Regions from separate parts of the Homo sapiens genome. Here region 1 is linked to region 2. Evidence: fine-mapped expression QTL. A gene starts in region 2. The other region holds a variant in brackets. All regions are shown on one strand. Distances are from middle to middle. Region 1 overlaps GREP1 (glycine rich extracellular protein 1). Region 2 holds the start of PKMYT1 (protein kinase, membrane associated tyrosine/threonine 1).

Region 1 (8,317 bases), 24 kb after region 2:
CCCACCTCAGCCTCCCAAAGTGCTGGGATTACAGGCGTGAGCCACTGCGCCCAGTCTCTTGCTGCTCTCCAGATTTCTTCTGGTTCCATTCCCTGTGGACAGGAAAAGTCTCTGCTTCCCCTTCAGAGTCCCTAAGGTCGATCTTTGGCCTCCAAGGAGTCAGGGGAGACCTGGGTCCCCCGCACTGACTTCCTTTCTCCTCACAGGGCACCAGCCTCCAAATGGCTATGGACCGGGAGCAGAACCAGGTGAGGAGGCCCTTCCTGGAGTTCCTCCCCTCCCTTCCCTTCCTCTTCCCTCCTCTTCCTTCTGCCATCCCAGGAAGAGGGGAGGCCAGGGCTGTGGCTCTCGCTGACCCCCATCTCTGAGTCACAGTTTTCTCTCCCCCAGGTTTTAATGGTGGCCTCGAGCCACAGAAAATTGGTGAGTCCTCCTGGGCCCCCGACCCATGTTGAGCGGAAGCTGGCATCTCCCTCATGCCTGAGTCAGTCTGTCTGTCCGCATCCCCCTGTCTATGAGCTGGTCACCTGGCCCTCCTGATGCTGTCCCTGTTCCACTAGCCTGTCCCTAGCTCCTCTCCAATCTCTGTCCTGCAGGTTTAGGTTATGGGAATGGTGTCCTGGGAGCCAGGGTCTTCCCCGAGGCCCACCCACAGCCAGGTGCCTGGGGAGCAGGGGTCGGGGTGGGAGAGTTGGGCTCAGGGCCCCAGCCCAGCCTCTGACACCCTCTTTCCTCCTCCAGGGTTCCATGGGGCCAATGGTTTTAGGAATAGTGAGTCAGACCCAGGGGACAAAGTGCAGTGGAGTGGGGGAGACAACAGCCCAGGGGCTAGGCGGGAATGACCAGAGTCTCTTGGAGGGGATGGGGTGGAAGCTCTGGTGTACCCCAAAGCAGCAGCTCTAGCCCCTGAAGGAAATGGTAAGAAATGAGCCTTCTGGGAGCAGAGCCAAGCCCAACAGGGGCCAGGGGTCCCAGCTCCTGTGGGCAAGGGTACCCCTGCCAGCTCTCCTCCCCACAGGGCAGGCCGGGGTGCTGTGGAACTCTCGCTGGCCCACCCTCCAGGCCTGGGGGGCCGGCTTGAAGCCTGGATATCAGGCTGGAGATGAATATGCTGAGGCCAGGAGCCAGCCAGGTAACGGGATGCCTGGATGAGTGTGTTGGGGCCATTAGAGGTGGCTTCAGGGAACTGGGCCCTGGGCCCAGGTCTACCCACAGCCCCACAGAGATAGAAGGTACAGCCCTCTTGGCGGAGGGGATGGAGTGAGTGAGAAGAGGCCAGGAGGGCATAGGCAGGAAGGAGCAGGAAGGAATGGAGCTGGAGGAGAGGCCAGAAGAGCCCGGGACCCTGAGAGCCAGCCCAGACACTGGACCAAGAAGGGGAGGTGATGGAGTTGGGAACGAGGGCCATCACGGACTCAGTTCTCCATACTCTGTCCCTCTCCCCCCGGTCCTCTGAGAAACTGAGGCAGAGCTGAGCCCTGGGCCCTCCGGGGAGGGGGTGTCTCCCACAGCCTGGGTTGAAGCTGGGGTGGACGGAAGCTCTCTGGTGACCCGAGTGCTCCTGGTCTGTCTGTCTGTGCCACAGGGGGCCCCGACGTGAAGAGAGGCAGCAATGGCCAGCTGGGGAATGGCTACGGAGGTGAGAGGGAGGCGCAATGGCCGAGCCGCCTGCCCAAAGGCCCCCCGTGGTCACCCCTCCAGCCATACTGGGGGACACCCAGCCCTTGGGAAGGATAGCAGGTTCTGCCACCTGTAGGTGGCTGCTGAGTGACTGACCCCAGAAGCTCAGGTCCCTGGGAGGGGAGGAGGGGGCAAGGCCTCACCAGGGCCCCGCCCCTCCCTAGCCCAGCTCTATGTCTTCCCAGGCCGCTGCCCTCTGGGGAAATGCTGAGCACTGCAATGCCCCTCGCCTGCCCAGCAAGGAAGACAGACCCTTGGGCTTGGCCTCTGGTGCTGCCTGGCCGGGGGTCTCCTCCATGCTAGAACCACAAACGTGCTTCCCTGCTTGCCTCCGCGTGCCATGCAAGGGGCTTGCTGACCAGGGTGGGAGTGGCATGGGCCTGCAGCCACCACCCAGCACCTCATTCATTCATTTGGCAAACATCAATGAGGCCATGTGCCAGGGACCATGTTCCCAACAGGAGAAATCATGAGAAGAAAACAGACTCGATCAACGCCTGCCCTCAGGGAGGGCATCACTTGGTGACCGCCTAGCGGGGGAACCACATCCAAGTTAGGGGCCTTGTGCATGGAAAAGAACACTTCATTCTTTGTGTTTTCATTTATAATCGATTTATTAAAGTTGTTAGATAAAAATCTCATTTTCCTTAAGCTTTTATAGTGGCCTTCCAGATATTGTATTGACTAATAATTTGGATGTAAAACTCACTTTCACAATCTTTGATGAATGCTTAATTAGTTTATAAATTTCACAGCTCGGCCAGGCATGGTGGGTCACGCCTGTAATCCCAGTATTTTGGGAGGCCAAGGCAGGAGGATTGCTTGAGCCTACAATTTAAAGACCAGCCTGGGCAATATAGTGAGACCCCCATCTCTATAAAAAATAAATAAGTAAATAAAAACAAATACGAATTTCACAACTCGACTTTTCCCTAAATATTTTGCGTGCCTTAAATGCCTGATTAACGAAATAGCCTTAGACATCTCAAACAACAATTAGAAACATAATCGACTTGACTCTCTTGATTCTCTCTCTCTTTTTTTTTTTTTTGAGACGGAGTCTCGCTCTGTCGCCCAGGCTAGAGTGCAGTGGCGCAATCTCGGCTCACTGCAAGCTCCCCCTCCCGGGTTCATGCCATTCTCCTTCCTCAGCCTCCCAAGTAGCTGGGACTACAGGCGCCTGCCCAGCTAAGTTTTTGTACTTTTAGTAGAGTCGGGGTTTCACCATGTTAGCCAGGATGGTCTGGATCTCCTCCTGACCTCGTGATCCGCCCGCCTCGGCCTCCCAAAGTGCTGTGATTACAGGCGTGAGCCACCGCACCCGGCGACTCCCATCTCCACAAATAAAAAACTTAGCCTGGCAGGGTGGCGCATGCCTGTAGTCTCAGCTACTTGGGAGGCTGAGGTGAGAGGATTACTTGAGCCGAGGAGATCGAGGCTGCAGTGAGCCATGATGGCACTACTGCACTCCAGCATGGGCGAAAGAGCAAGATCCTGTCTCAAAAAAAAAAAAAAAAAGTTTCTATATTCCAATTTTGAATAGATTGACCATTTTATCCTTTTTGTTCTGAGCTACCAGATTCGCACCCATCTGTCATTTACAATTGTTCTTAGGAACTTTAACACAAATGCTAAGTATATTATCACCAAACTTTACTTTTGAATTGTGATATCGTTTTATCTTTCTTATAAGATAACTGAATGGAAATCTGTGCACCTTGACCCATCCACACAGGATCCTCATACCTGAGTTGCAATGGGTAAACAGCAACGAGAGGACAATCTCACACTCCACATCGGTGGCGTCGGGGGGCGGGCGCGGTGGGTCATGCCTGGAATCCCAGCACTTTGGAAGACTGAGGCCGGCGGATCGCTTGAGCCCAGGAGTTCGAGACCAGCCTGGGCAACATGGTGAGACTCCATCTCTACACAAAATATAATAATTAGGCCGGGCGCGGTGGCTCACGCCTGTAATCCCAGCACTTTGGCACGCCGAGGCGGGTGCATCATGAGGTCATGAGTTCGAGACCAGCCTGGCCAACATGGCGAAACCCCGTCTCTACTAAAAACACAAAAATTAGCCGGGCATGGTGGCGGGCGCCCGTAATCCCATCTGCTCAGGAGGCTGAGGCAGGAGACTCGTTTGAACCAGGAGGCGGAGGTTGCAGCTGAGACTGCGCCAATGCACTCCAGCCTGGGGGATAGAGCGAGACTCCGTCTAAAAAAAATTTTTTTTTTAAATTTAAAGACCATAATAATTAGCCGGGTGTGGTGGCGTGCACCTGTAGTCCCGGCTACTTGGGGAGGCTGAGGCGGGAGAACTGCTTTAGTCCGGCAGGTCGAGGCTTCACTGAGCCAAGACCGCGCCACTGCAATGTAGCCTGGGCGCCAGAGTGAGGGGCTCAGTCCCCAAAAAAGCCACCTAAAAAACAAACAAAAAAAAAATTGGTGAGGCGCCGCGCCTCGGTGTCGCAGCGAATCCGCAGATCCTCAAGCCAGGTGGGGGCGCCCACTGCGCGTGTGCAGCGCCTGATAGCCAGGCTAGCTGAGGGCGGGGAGCAGCTGCGGCACCTGGGACACAGCGATTGGCTGGGACCAGGAGAGGGCGGGAAGAAGAACTTGGCGGAGCGCGCT[C/G]ATATCTCTGATTGGCTGCCAAGGGTAGCCCTTGACAGCTGCCGGGTGGGACCCGTAGACCGCGAGCGCACTGGCCCGTGATTGGTTGGGGTGCGGCGGCGAGCATCTGCGATTGGCTGGGCCGCTCGGAGTGCGGCGCTTGGCCACCTCCCGAGGTACCAGGTCACGGCTGGCGGCGCGCTCTGGGGCCCTGGGCTGGCGGCCGCAACCGGGGTGGCGGCCGCAGCCAAGCTGGCGGCGCGGCTGCCCCGCTCCAGCTCGCACCCGCGGCTCGCCCGCGCCCGCGCCCACTCGCGATTGGGCCGGGCCCGCTCGACGCTGCCGCCCACCCCGCTGCCCCCGCCGTCCCTGCCGCACCCGCCGTTGCCCGGCCTGCCGCCCGGCCTGAGCCCCGGGCCGCCGACGCCCTCCGCTCTCGCCCTGGCCGAGCTGCCACCGCTGCCCGCGCTCCCGCTGCGGCCCGAGCCGCTGGCGCCCTGGGGCCCCGGCGCGCATCTGGCACTGCCCGAGCTGCCGCCCGAAGCCTGCTCACCCGCGCTCTCCGCCGCCGTGCTCGCACTGCAGGACCTGCCGCGCCTGCCCGCGCCCGCGCGCTCCGCCCGCGCTCCTACCGCTGCTTCCGCTGCCCGTGTCCGCCGTCGCCTCAGCCCCTGGGCCCGTGGGCGCGCTCGTCCGCCCGCCCCTGGTCTCCGAGCCGCCGCCGCATCCGCTTCCGCCGCTGCCCGCGCGACCCTCTCCCTTCAGCCTGCTGACGGCCCCCGAGACCCGCGACCCATGGCTGCTGTCCGCCTTTCCCCTGCCACCGCCCGTGCCCCTGTCCCCGCATTTCTTCCTGTCGCCGCCCTGCTGACCTGGCCCCTCCCGCGGCGGGTGAGTAGGCAGCCCCCGACAGGGCCAGTGCCCGTAGCCACCTTCCCCGGGCATGGATTCAGAGGACGGGGGTTAGAGCCCAGTTTGGGGAAGAGAGAAGGAGAATCGGAAGCAGCTCAGGTTTGGTAGAGAAAGGAGCGAGTCTGAAAATAGACTTGTCTAAAGATTCGGGTCTTCCATTTTCCCCTGCTGCCCTCCAGCAGGCCTCTTGCTAGGTTATTTGAGAATGTAACCCGTCCCCTGGGCTGATAACCTGGCTAGTGATCAGGGCAGCGGGCGGGGCCCACAGCACGTGTCCAAGGAAATGGGGATCAAGGGTATGAAAACAAAAGTTTAAAGTGCTGGGCCGGGCGCGGTGGCTCCCGCCTATAATCCCAGCACTTTGGGAGGCTGAGGCTGGCGGATCACCTGAGGTCAGGAGTTTGAGACCAGCCTGACCAACATGGAGAAACCCTGTCTCTACTAAAAATACAAAATTAGCCGGGCGTGGTGGCACATGCCTGTAATCCCAGCTACTCGGGAGGCTGAGGCAGGAGAATCGCTTGAACCCGGGAGGCGGAGGTTGGGGTGAGCCGAGATGGTGCCATTGCACTCCAGCCTAGGCAACAAGAGCTAAACTCCGTCTCAAAAAAAAAAAAAAAAGTTTAAAGTGCTTTAACTATATCCAAATATTTCATTTCTCTTATAAATAAAGGGTCTGGATGCCATGGCTAAGGCCATCCTCAGTGTATGGCTCTTGAAAATTCTGATCCTGCCGCAAAAGTCTTTTTTTTTTTTTTTTTTTTTTTGAGACGGAGTTTCGTTCTTGTTGCCCAGGCTGGAGTGCAATGGCATAATCTCGGCTCACCACAGCCTCCGCCTCCTGGGTTCAAGCGATTCTCCTGCCTCAGCCTCCTGAGTAGCTGAGTTTACAGGCATGCGCCACCACGCCCAGCTAATTTTCTATTTTTAGTAGAGACGGGGTTTCTCCATTTTGGTCAGGCTGGTCTCAAACTCCAGACCTCAGGTGATCCGCCCGTCTCCCAAACTGCTGGGATTACAGGCATAAGCCACTGCGCCCGGCCTTTGAAAAGTCTTCAGAAGTCAAATTTTCAACTGAAACAGATCCAGGGGTCGGGCTGGCTGTGCGCACCAGGGAAGCAGTGGTGGGGATCGATACTGGACCCAAGGGTCACATGCAAGGGCTGTGAAGTCATCCCCATGGGACAGGAGAGCTTCCCCCACCCCCACCCGGGCTGGGCCCTGAGAGGAAGCTCCTGTTCTCTCCAGCTTTGCCTGCACCCCACCTGCCAGTTTCTGTGCAGCCTCTACAACTTAATAAAGTTCTCTTTGTTCCCTAGGTGGCCTGAGCTCAGGTAATCAGGCGAAAATTCTTTCTCAGTGGGCTCTTCTCCAGCAGCCTAGGACTGGTATCAGAAAGCCAACCTTGACCCTGGGGGACCTCGGAGAGCCCGGGACCCACCACCAAGAAGGGCAGTGTACTAGTTCTTTGTGACTGCAGTAAAAATTTTATTTTTTAATTTTTTTTATTTTTGGTAGAGATGCGGTTTCACCATGTTAGCCAGGATGGTCTCGATCTCCTGACCTCGTGATCTTCCCGCCTCGGCCTCCCAAAGTGCTGGGATTACAGGCGTGAGCCACCGCGCCCGGCCTGACCGCAGTAGCAAATTTATACACACTGCATGGCTTCAAACAACAGAAATGTATTCGTTACAATTCTGGAGGCCAAAAGTCAAAAATAAAGGTGTGGGCAGGACCCTGTTCCCTTCACAGGTGCTAGGGGAGGATCCCTCCTGCCTCTTCCAGCTCCTGGTGGCTCCAGGCCCTCTGTGGCTTGTGGCCGCATCACAGGAGTTCCTGCCTCCGTCTTCACATGGCCTTCTCCCCATGTCTGTCTCCAATCTCCCTGTTTTTATGTTGTAAGAGGTTGGATTGTCGTTGAAGGTAGGACCCGCCTGAAACCTAGGATAATCTCATTTTGATATCCTTAGTTTAATTACATGTGCAAAGGCCCTTTTATCAAGTGAGGTCACATTCACAGATTCCAGGGCTTAGAGGGTGGAGGTATCATTTTGCGTGCCCCCATCTGGACATGCAGTGTCCTCTCCCCTGTGGGGCTGACCTACCTTCCTAGCCGTCTTCCCAGAACGTAATGTGTCTTAAATCCGTCATGCTGACCTGGGGCCCTGGGTGCCCTTGGGCAGGAGCTGATGGCACTAGTACCTTGATAAAGTTCTTACTGGCACCAGAAGAGAATAAAGTAACTCTCCTTCCCCTTCTCTGACTTATGGCCAGGTGCCCATTCCCACTGGCTTGCCGCTCCCCAGCTCCCTGCGCTTTATATTGTTGAGGCCTCCTCTCTCAGCTAAGAAACAGGAAGTACACAGATGTGTATTCTTAAAGACAGCATTAGCCACGGGGCCCCCACCCTCAAAGGGTGGGAGCGATAACTGCTGCTGGTTGAAACTGACAGTTACTACTGATAATAAAGTTAATTGTTACCCAGTCAGTGGAGTCTGCCCAGGTGTACAAGTGAAACCTCCATTATGCTTTTGACAAAATATGCTTGTCTTGAGTCAATACCCACCTCGATCCCCAAGGTGCCAGTCCAGGGATGTGCCAGGGTTGAAGCAGAGCTGTCTCCTCTCTGCTTTACAGCCAGGAGCACCTGAGGTTTGGGCAGCTGTGACTTGCCCAGGGAGCCCTGGGGTGGGGCTCGCATGAGGTTCTGGGAGTCCAGCCCGCTGCCCCCTGCAAGTGGGGAGCAAAGGGCACTTCCCTTGCCAGGGACATGGCAATGAGAGTGAGCCAGCTGGTGGAGGGGGCCTCTTCCGTAATCAGATCCAAATGCAGTTTTCTGCAGAGGTTTCCCTGTACTGGGAGCCTCGAAGAATTTGGGACAAGGAGGAACGGGATGGTGCTTGGGAGGCCCAGAAGAAGGAGAGGCCCTGCCCCGCTGCCCTGTCGGGAAAGAGGTTCAGGAGGCTCTCTTAGCCCACCTAGGGGGGCTAGCTCCAAAGTCAGGGTCTGGGTTGGTGTCAGGTGTGTCCTGCTTCCCGCTGTGCACTTGGTCAGGTTCGCTCAGCTCCCTGAGCTTGTTCCTGTCTGTGAAGGTGGGCAGTGAGCCCGTGAG
Region 2 (8,317 bases):
CCCTCCTCCCAGGCCTGCTCCAGCCGCACGCAGCATGGGTGCTGCCCCACCTTCTCGTGGCTGCCCACCTCGGCCAACTTGCGGGCCCGGTCCTTGGGGCCCCGGAATGGTGACATGGAACGCTTTACCGCATAGAGCCGGCCGTCCTCCTTGGAGCGCACCTGGAAGGGAGGTGGTACCCACGCACACAGTGAGGGTGAGCCACAAGTGGCACAATCACATAGGGGGACAACCTGGCAGACCCCATTAAGGGTTCACACACGGGGCACGGTGGTGTAGCTGGCATCTGTCTCAGACCCCTGCCCAGGGTAATAACAAAACCAGACAAACCTCCATCCCTCGGGCTGGGTCTGTGGAGACCCAGCGACGGAGGAGCCAGGGCCGACCTGCACTGACCCCAGGGGACCTCTTGGATGTGTCACGAGGTGGAAAAAGCAGCTGCAGAGCAACACAGGCAGCCCAGGCTGTGGTGTGAAAAGTGGGCTCCCCTGTGAGAAAGCTGACCTGGGGGCCAATGTTGTTTGTACTTTTTAACAAAATTGTCTTCATACAGGACTCATACAAGGGAAAACTCCTCTCTAAAAGAAAATATAAATGACTGGAAACTGTGTTTAAGAAAAGCAAGATGGCAGGCAGGGGGTAGCTCAAAGCCTGCCAGCCTGGGGAGGGCTGGCCAGGCACTGCACTCAGGGCCAGTGCCAGAGGCTGGGCCGACTCGCCAAGGACGCTGCACAGCTGGCGCCAGGGCCGGAGGAGATGGCACAGGGGCTGCTGCAGGGCGTGCCAGACTCTGGACAAGGGGCCAGTATGCACAGAGCAACCCCTGGAGGGGCCTGCATTGGGGATGATGGGAGCAGCCAAGTCAAATGTGGAGGGAGCCTGTGAGCCCAGCAGGGACAGGCTGTAGGGAACGGAAGGGGATCAGGCTGCCCAGGACACTGTCCTGCCAAGGGAGGTGCAGAAACACAAAGGAGGTCCCCCAGATGGGCCTAGAAGCCGTCCCCTCACTCACCTTGAAGACCTCTCCGTAGGAGCCATGGCCCAGGCGGCTGAGCCTCTGGAAGCTCTGCTGGAAGAAGGACTCTGGCCGGCTTGGGTCATACCCAGGGCTCTGCAGAGTCTCTGAGGCCTCGCCCCGGAATGACACCCGCCGGGGCTGCAGCTGGTGCCAGCCTGGGGTCCGAGGAGGGAAGAGGCGGCTGATGGGAATGCTGCCCTTGGCAGGGGGCGGAGGTGGGAGGCTCCGGCTGAGCCCCCTGGGCCTCTTGAGGGAGAATCCAGGTTCTGCGTGGCGGAAGTAGGCTGGGACTGGGATGGGGGTGCCACTCAGAGGTGGCGGGGTGCCCTCCGTGGGCATGGGCATGGCCAGTGCAGGAGGCCCTGGGGGCAGAGACAGAGGCTGAGTACAGGGCAGCATGTCCACTCTGATACCACCTGGCCCTGTGGCTCCAAAGAGGCCACAGAAGAGAGCTATGTCTATACCACACACTTATTCTACTTTAAACGGCAATGGGAGCAATAAGCACCTACCAAGAAAAGGCAGAGGACAGATTCATACTCACCTGCCCACCAGGCTGTTGTATTTTAGAGATGATAGAAACATAAGAGGAAAACCATGGGGCCCGTGTTCTTGAGGGTCTTGCAGTCGGGTTAAGAGCAAGGCAGTTTGGAGTCAGACGGGCTGCGCCTGCATCCCTGCCCTCATCACGGCCAGCTCTTTGATCCTAAACTACACAACCTCTTCCGAGACTACACGGGCCCACGATCCCTTATCTCCAATTCCAAAGTGAAAACCCGGAATCCCTCAAGTGTCTTTCTTTTTCATAACTGTCGTGCCAAAACCCAGTTAGTGGTGTCCACTTCCAGAATGGCAGTGTGTGCAGCTCCGTGGACCCCTGCCCCAGTGAAACAGCACAACTGATGACGATTATTCAAAAGCAAGCACTGAAAGCCTCTGGGCATGGTGCCCAGGGCACACAGCAAACAAAGGTTTACACAAGAAAACCTGCCAAGGCCTGGGAATAATGGCAAGCCTGTTGGCACCTGAGCCATGACACTCCTGCCCTCCCACCTCCAGCACCCCTCTCCCCCCGCCTAGCACTGGGGGCAGGTGTGGCCAAGAAGAAGGGCTCCCTCTCCCCCAGCTCCCCGTCAAGGGTTAGGGTGTTTGCCCAGGAGGGCCAGGTTCTCAGCACTTCTCAACCCTCCCAGCTCCACATGGCAGAGGCTAAATTCCAGCTGAGTGTGGCAGACAGGCCAGGGGCTCCTTTCTTCCACCTGCCCCCAAGCATAGAATAGAGGCTATATCTCAGGCCCGGCAGGCTGGGAACATGGAGCCCCAGCTCATTTGTAGGAAGGAGGCTCCACACTGGGAGAGGGCAACCAAGAAGGCCAGAGGCTCCTGCCCAACCCAGCGACCTGCTCCTAAAGCAATAGCAGCACTCAGAGAGGTGCCCCGCTGTCCTGCCCCCAGTTCCACAGCATGGCTCAGACAGAGATTTAGCCTAGGGGTAGACGTAGGTCATAAATAGAGCTCTCCCCACCCACCAACCCCCTGAAAATTGGCTTGATTTGAAACAGTGCGTAGGGAAGTTCAAGTTTAAAGGGGCTGTCAAAATCAGTGGAAGTTTTGGTGGTGCGCCATTAAGAAGAGACTGGTACCCGCATTAGGGCAACCAGCTGAACCATAGGCCAGCTAGTTTACCACAGAGAAGTGGAGAAAGAGCTAGCTAGGAAGAGCCTGCCTGCTGTCAGAACAAACCTCACTGACCTCAAAAGCCACCCTGTCAAAGGAGCTCAAAATTAATTGGATCTGGCCAGGCACAGTGGCTCATGCCTGTAATCCCAGCATTTTAGGAGGCTGAGGTGAGTAAATCACCTGAGGTGAGGAGTTCGAGTCCAGCCTGGCCAACATGGTGAAACCCCATCTCTACTAAAAATACAAAAATTAGCTGGGTGTGGTGGTGCATGCCTGTAGTCCCAGCTACTCGGGAGGCTGAGGCAGGGGAATTGCTTGAACCTGGGAGGCAGAGATTACAGTGAGCCAAGATCATGCCACTGCACTCCAGCCTGGGCAACAGAGCGAGACTCTGTCTCAAAAAAAAAAAAAAATTTAATTGGATTGGACCGTGGAACACTTTATGCCCCAAGGTATTGTTTGTTTGTTTGTTTTTGAGACAGGGTCTCACTCTGTTGCCCAGGCTGGAGTGCAGTGGTATGATCTCGGCCCACTGCAGCCTCCGACTCCCAGGTTCAAGTAATTCTCTTGCCTCAGCCTCCTGAGTAGCTGGGATTACAGGCGTGTGCCAACACACTAGAATAATTTTTATATTTTTAGTAGAGATGTGGTTTCACCATGTTGGTGAGGCTGGTGCACCAAAGTATTATAAAAAACAATAGAGCGGCTGGGTGTGGTGGCTCACGCCTGTAATCCCAGCACTTCGGGAGGCAAGGTGGGTGGATCACTTGAGGTCAAGACTTCGAGACCAGCCTGGCCTACATGGTGAAACCCCATCTCTACTAAAGATACAAATTTTTGCCGGGCGTGCTGGTGCATGCCTGTAGTCCCAGCTACTCAGAGGCTGAGGCAGGAGAAATGCTTGAACCCAGGAGGTGGAAGTTGCGGTGAGCCGAGATTGCGGCATTGCACTCCAACTGGGCGACAAGAGCAAAACTCCATCTCAAAAAAATATACATAATAGTAAATAAAAAATTAAAAAGAGCAGTCTCCAGTACCTGAGGGAGTACAGGGGTGAGGGGAGCGATGCTACCTGGGCCTGGCTGGCAGGCTGCCCTCCATCTTGTGGAGACTCTTCCTCTGACTCTAACTACCTCAGAGTCCCAGCCCAGGGTTTCTCCAAGTCAGGAGCCAGGGTGTTGGGATCCTGGAGGTCACTGGTCACAAGCACAGCCTCCAGGCCCAACCCTGGCACACTCGGGGACCTGGGCCTGTGCATCTTAACCCAGTTCTCCCACCGTCCCTGCCCTACGACTTACGTTCTAGCATGACTGGCCTGGCCCAACAGCCTCAGTGGTGGGACGGGGGAGGCAGGAGCAGGGGCTCCCACGTGAATCCAGGGTGTCCCTGAGCTAAGGCCAGGCGGGGGTGACCTCCGCAGCTTCCGGGGCCCTGGGCGATCGGGCCGTCTCGCCTCACCCTCTCACCAGGCCCGACACATCTGCTGGCCACCTTTCCCGGTAGACGGTAAGTTCCTCCCAGGCAGGGCCGCGGCTGACTTCACTCCGTGGGTGTGGGGAAGCCCTGGCGAACAGAGCAGTGGACGGGCTGTCACGAGGGAAGAGGGGCTGTTGCAGAAGAAGAGAGGCTGTCCCGGGGCAGGGGCTGTCACGGAGGAAGGACTGTCACGGGGAGGGCGGCGGCGCGGGGTTGATGGACAGCAGGCGGGGTCTCCGGGAGGGGCGAGTAGGGCGGGACCGCCGCTGGGAAGGGGCTCGAGGCAAGGGAACCAGGAATTGGGGAGGACGGGAGGCAGGGGCTCGCGGGGGCGGGCCTGAGGGGACGCGAGCGGGCCGCCGGGGAGGCCTGAGGGGCAGGGGTAACGCAGACCTGGCGAGGCGGAGGGGAGCGGCGAGGTGGCCACGCCGAGGCCCCTCACGGCGGGGTCTGGGCTCACCTGGGGCGACTGGGCGGGGCGCGGGTCCGCGAGGGCCCAGATTCCGGGTCCGCGGAGGCCACGGGACCCCTCGGGTGGCTCAGCGGGCCGGAGTCTGCCGTCGACTGTTCCGGACGCCCGGGCGGAGGACTCCCGTGAGGGGGAACGGCCCGTGAACGCGCGCGGAGCTGCTCGCGCCAAAAATTCCAAACCGGCCTCGAGGCTCCTCCCCCTCCCCAGTGCAGCCCGTCAGGGGTGCCCGGGCTCCGAGGCTCCGCCCCTCGTGCTGCGTGCGCGCCGCCGAGCCGCCCCGCCGCTCACTGCGCAGGCGCACAGGATTCTCCGCGCTGGCCCGGGGCGTGGGTGGCGGCCTGGTTCTGAGTCGCTGCGCGGGGCTTCAGCCGCCCAGTCCCTGGGACGCCCACTGCCCTCCAGGCCTCGCACCCGACACCCACCGCCCTCGCTGGGCTGGCGTAGTGTTTGGGTCCATAAAAGGGACCGCCATCCCGGTGCTCGGAGCAGGCGTAGCCCCAGGGTTACTCCGGGTAGGACCAGGAAGTCCCTACGGCCTCCTGGGTCCCGGCACCCCCCTTCTCACTCCGGCCGTGTTCTGAACCAGGGTCGCGGTGGGAGGCCAGACGCACGACCCCCAACCCCTAGCGCACGGCTTCGGGAGCCAGAAAAAGCCGCCTCTTCCAGGAAGCTCTCCAGATAGGCAGGACTCTGCTTGGCCTGACCTCGCCTGCCTGCAGCTTCCCTGCCAACAGGCCTCAGATACTTTTTTTTTTTTTTTTAGACAGGGTCTCACTGTCACCAAGGCTGGAATGCAGTGGTGCAGTCCCCAGGTTCAGGCGGTTCTCCCAACCTCAGCCTGCCGAGTATGTGAGATCACAGGCGCGCGCCACCGCACTCGGCTCATGTATTTTATTTTTAGACAGGGTCTCATTCTGTTGTCCAGGCTGGAGTGCAGTGGGGCGATCTCGACTCACTGTAACTTCCGCCTCCCCCGCTCAAGCGTTCCTCCCACCTCAGCCTCCTGAGTAGCTGGGACCACAGGCGCGCGCCACCACACCCAACTAATTTTTGCATTTTTTTGTAGAGACGGTGTTTTACCATGTTGGCCAAGCTAGTGTCGAACTTCTGACCTCAAGCGATCCGCCCGCCTCGGCCTCCCAGAAGGCTGGGATTACAGGCGTGAGCCACCGCGATTGGCCGCAGGATCATAGTTCACTGCAGCCTCGAGCAGCCACTTCCGGGGCAGCTCCTCCATTCTCTGAGTTTGAGACTTGCTCTCAGCTCAGATCCCTTCAGCGCTCTCCTGGCTGAACGACCTTGGGAATGCACTGAGCCTTTCTGAGCTTCGGATTAGTCTCCTCTCCTGGAAAAAAAAAAACAGCTGAGGACGCTGGGATGATCCCCTAAAGTGATTAGCAGGGGCCCTCGCGGAGCAAGTCGGGCTAGGGATTGTTCCTTCCCTCACCGAGGGGCTCTTTATCTGTTTAACTGGGTGGGAGGAGTACGCTTCCGGCCAACCCTCCCCCAAACGCTGGCCTTCTCACTCTCACCTCTCCTTCCGCCTTATTTTTGCTATTGCCCTGATCTCTGTCCGATGTTCTATCTTTTGTTTGTGAGTTTACTTGTTGACTACCTGCTCCTTCTAGCCCTGGCCTCCAGAACCAGTCCCCCAAACCCTCCATCCTCCCCAAGTCTCTGACAGGTCATGGACTGCAAAGCTTCCCACCCATTCAGTTCCTGCACCCTCTGTAAACGTTCTGTGCATGGAGCAGCAGTGTGGGGGAGGAGAGGCTGGGATCCTGGCTGGGGGCGGCAGCCCACCTGCCTGCACCTTTCCTTGTCCTTCGCATCTCTGGCGGCTGTGCCCCAGTGACTCAGGCAGGATCCTTGTTGATGACTCCAGACTGGCCCCCAGGAGGCCTGGGGCACACACAGGCCCCTCCCCAGCTGCCTAGGGCTACCTCTGCCAGCCCCATCTCCCCAACAGGTCCCCTTCCAACCGCCCATTTTTTAAAGTCTGATTCACAATGATAATTAAAAAAAAAAAAAAAAAAGCATGGAAACACATGCTTCCGATGTAAATTTCACTGTGTGAGGAAAGGCTGTAATATAAATATATGTAAATGGAAATAAGTAGATGGAGCAGATAAGTGCGTGGTGTGAGGGAAACTAGGGCTGCGATCCTGCCTGCCCCAGTTTCTGCGTGTGTAAAATGGGGATAAAAATAATAGTTTTCTAGACTAGGCAACATAGCAAGGCCCTGTCTCAAGAAAGAAAAAAGAAAGAAAAGGAAGGGAAGAAAGGGAAAGAAAAAGAGAAAGAAAGAAAGGAAAGGAAAGGAAGGAAGGAAAGAAAGGGAGAGAAAAAAAGAAAAGAAAGAAGAAATAAAGCAGTGAGGCACAGTGGTACACACCTGTAGTCCCAGCTCCTCAGGAGGCTGGAGTAGGAGGATCACTTGATCCCTGGAGTTAAAGGCCGCAGTGAGGGCCGGGTGCAGTGGCTCATGCTGGTAACCCCAGCAGTTTGGGAGGCTGAGGCAGGTGGATCACTTGAGCTCAGGAGTTCGAGACCAGGCTGGCCAATATGGTGAAACCCCTTCTCTACTAAAAATACAAAAATTAGCTGGGTGTGATGGCAGGCGCTTGTAATCCCAGCTACTCGGGAGGCTGAGGCAGAATTGCTTGAACCTGGGAGGCAGAGGTTGCAGTGAGCCCACATCGCACCACTGCACTCCAACCTGGGTGACAAGAGCGAGACTCTGTCTCAAAAAAAAAAAAAAAAAAAAAGGCTGCAGTGAGCCTGGGCAACAGAGTGAGACCCTGTAAAAAATATAAAGTGATAATAATAGTAGTTCCTCCTTCCTCGGGGAGTATGAGCACCACATGAGAAAATGCCTGTGAAGTGCTTAGCACAGAGCCGAACACACAGTAGGGGCTTACTCATTGTTTCAGAATAACAGGCTGGGCGAGGTGGTCACGCCTGTAATCCCAGCAATTTGGCAGGCTGAGGCGGGCAGGTCACTTGAGCTCAGAAGTTAGAGACCAGCCTGGGCAATATGGCAAAACCCTGTCTCTACAAAACATTCAAAAATTAGCTGGGCATGGTGGTGTGTACCTGTGCTCCCAGCTAGTCAAGAGGGTGAGGTGGGAGGATCGCTTGAGCCCAGGAGGTGGATGCTGCAGTGTGCCGAGATGGCGCCACTGCACTCCAGCCTGGGCGACAGAGCGAGACTCGGTCTCAAATTAATAATAATAATAATAATAATAATAATAATAATAATAATAATAAAATAGTAAGACCCCCTCATCTGTACAGTCTGTTGCAGTTTTCAACGCTGCAGTCTGGGCCAAAAAGAGGCCCCAGGAGGAAAGAAGCCCGGACTCCTCTAACCACCTTGGGGTCACAGGGACCGAGGCACGGGCCCACAGGGTTCCGGACCAAAGCGCTTTGCCGACCTCCTTCCAGGAGGAATCCTCCCAGCCGCCGCCCAGGCACCCGGTTCCCGCGAGTCCCACCCGCGCGACCAGGCGCGGGCCGCGCGCGCCCCCGTGTGTCCCGTCGCCGCCACAGCACCCGCGGCTCCGCCCAGACTCTCCAAGGAAGACTCACTCATGCGGTTTCGGCCACAAAAGGAAAGGCGAGGCCGGGCGCGGTGGCTCACGCCTGTAATCCTAGCACTTTGGGTGGCC

Evidence for each region.
Region 1: its variant is fine-mapped to the expression of PKMYT1 in cerebellar hemisphere (GTEx, PIP 0.98).

What each region holds. Positions count from the first base shown.
Region 1 is chr16:2,999,696-3,008,012 of GRCh38, forward strand. It overlaps GREP1 (glycine rich extracellular protein 1), which reads left to right. Exons shown (of 29, transcript NM_001396456.1): 25 at 207-248; 26 at 391-423; 27 at 1,019-1,132; 28 at 1,586-1,639; 29 at 1,866-2,316. The coding sequence ends at 1,891. Among named protein-coding and RNA genes, the nearest start is that of CLDN9, 9.1 kb to the right of the region's middle. RefSeq lists enhancers at 1,785-2,321, 4,068-5,026, 4,173-4,467, 6,273-6,567, 7,903-8,317 and silencers at 4,132-4,425, 4,173-4,467, 4,412-4,511, 4,522-4,611. The variant C/G (reference allele first, on the strand shown) is at 4,315.
Region 2 is chr16:2,975,652-2,983,968 of GRCh38, forward strand. It overlaps PKMYT1 (protein kinase, membrane associated tyrosine/threonine 1), which reads right to left and starts at 4,795. Exons shown (of 9, transcript NM_004203.5): 1 at 4,635-4,795; 2 at 3,997-4,261; 3 at 1,013-1,380; 4 at 1-161. The coding sequence starts at 4,006. RefSeq lists enhancers at 3,485-4,361, 4,362-5,237, 5,238-6,114, 7,159-7,660 and silencers at 4,529-4,758, 4,769-5,128, 7,781-7,830, 8,071-8,130, 8,085-8,271.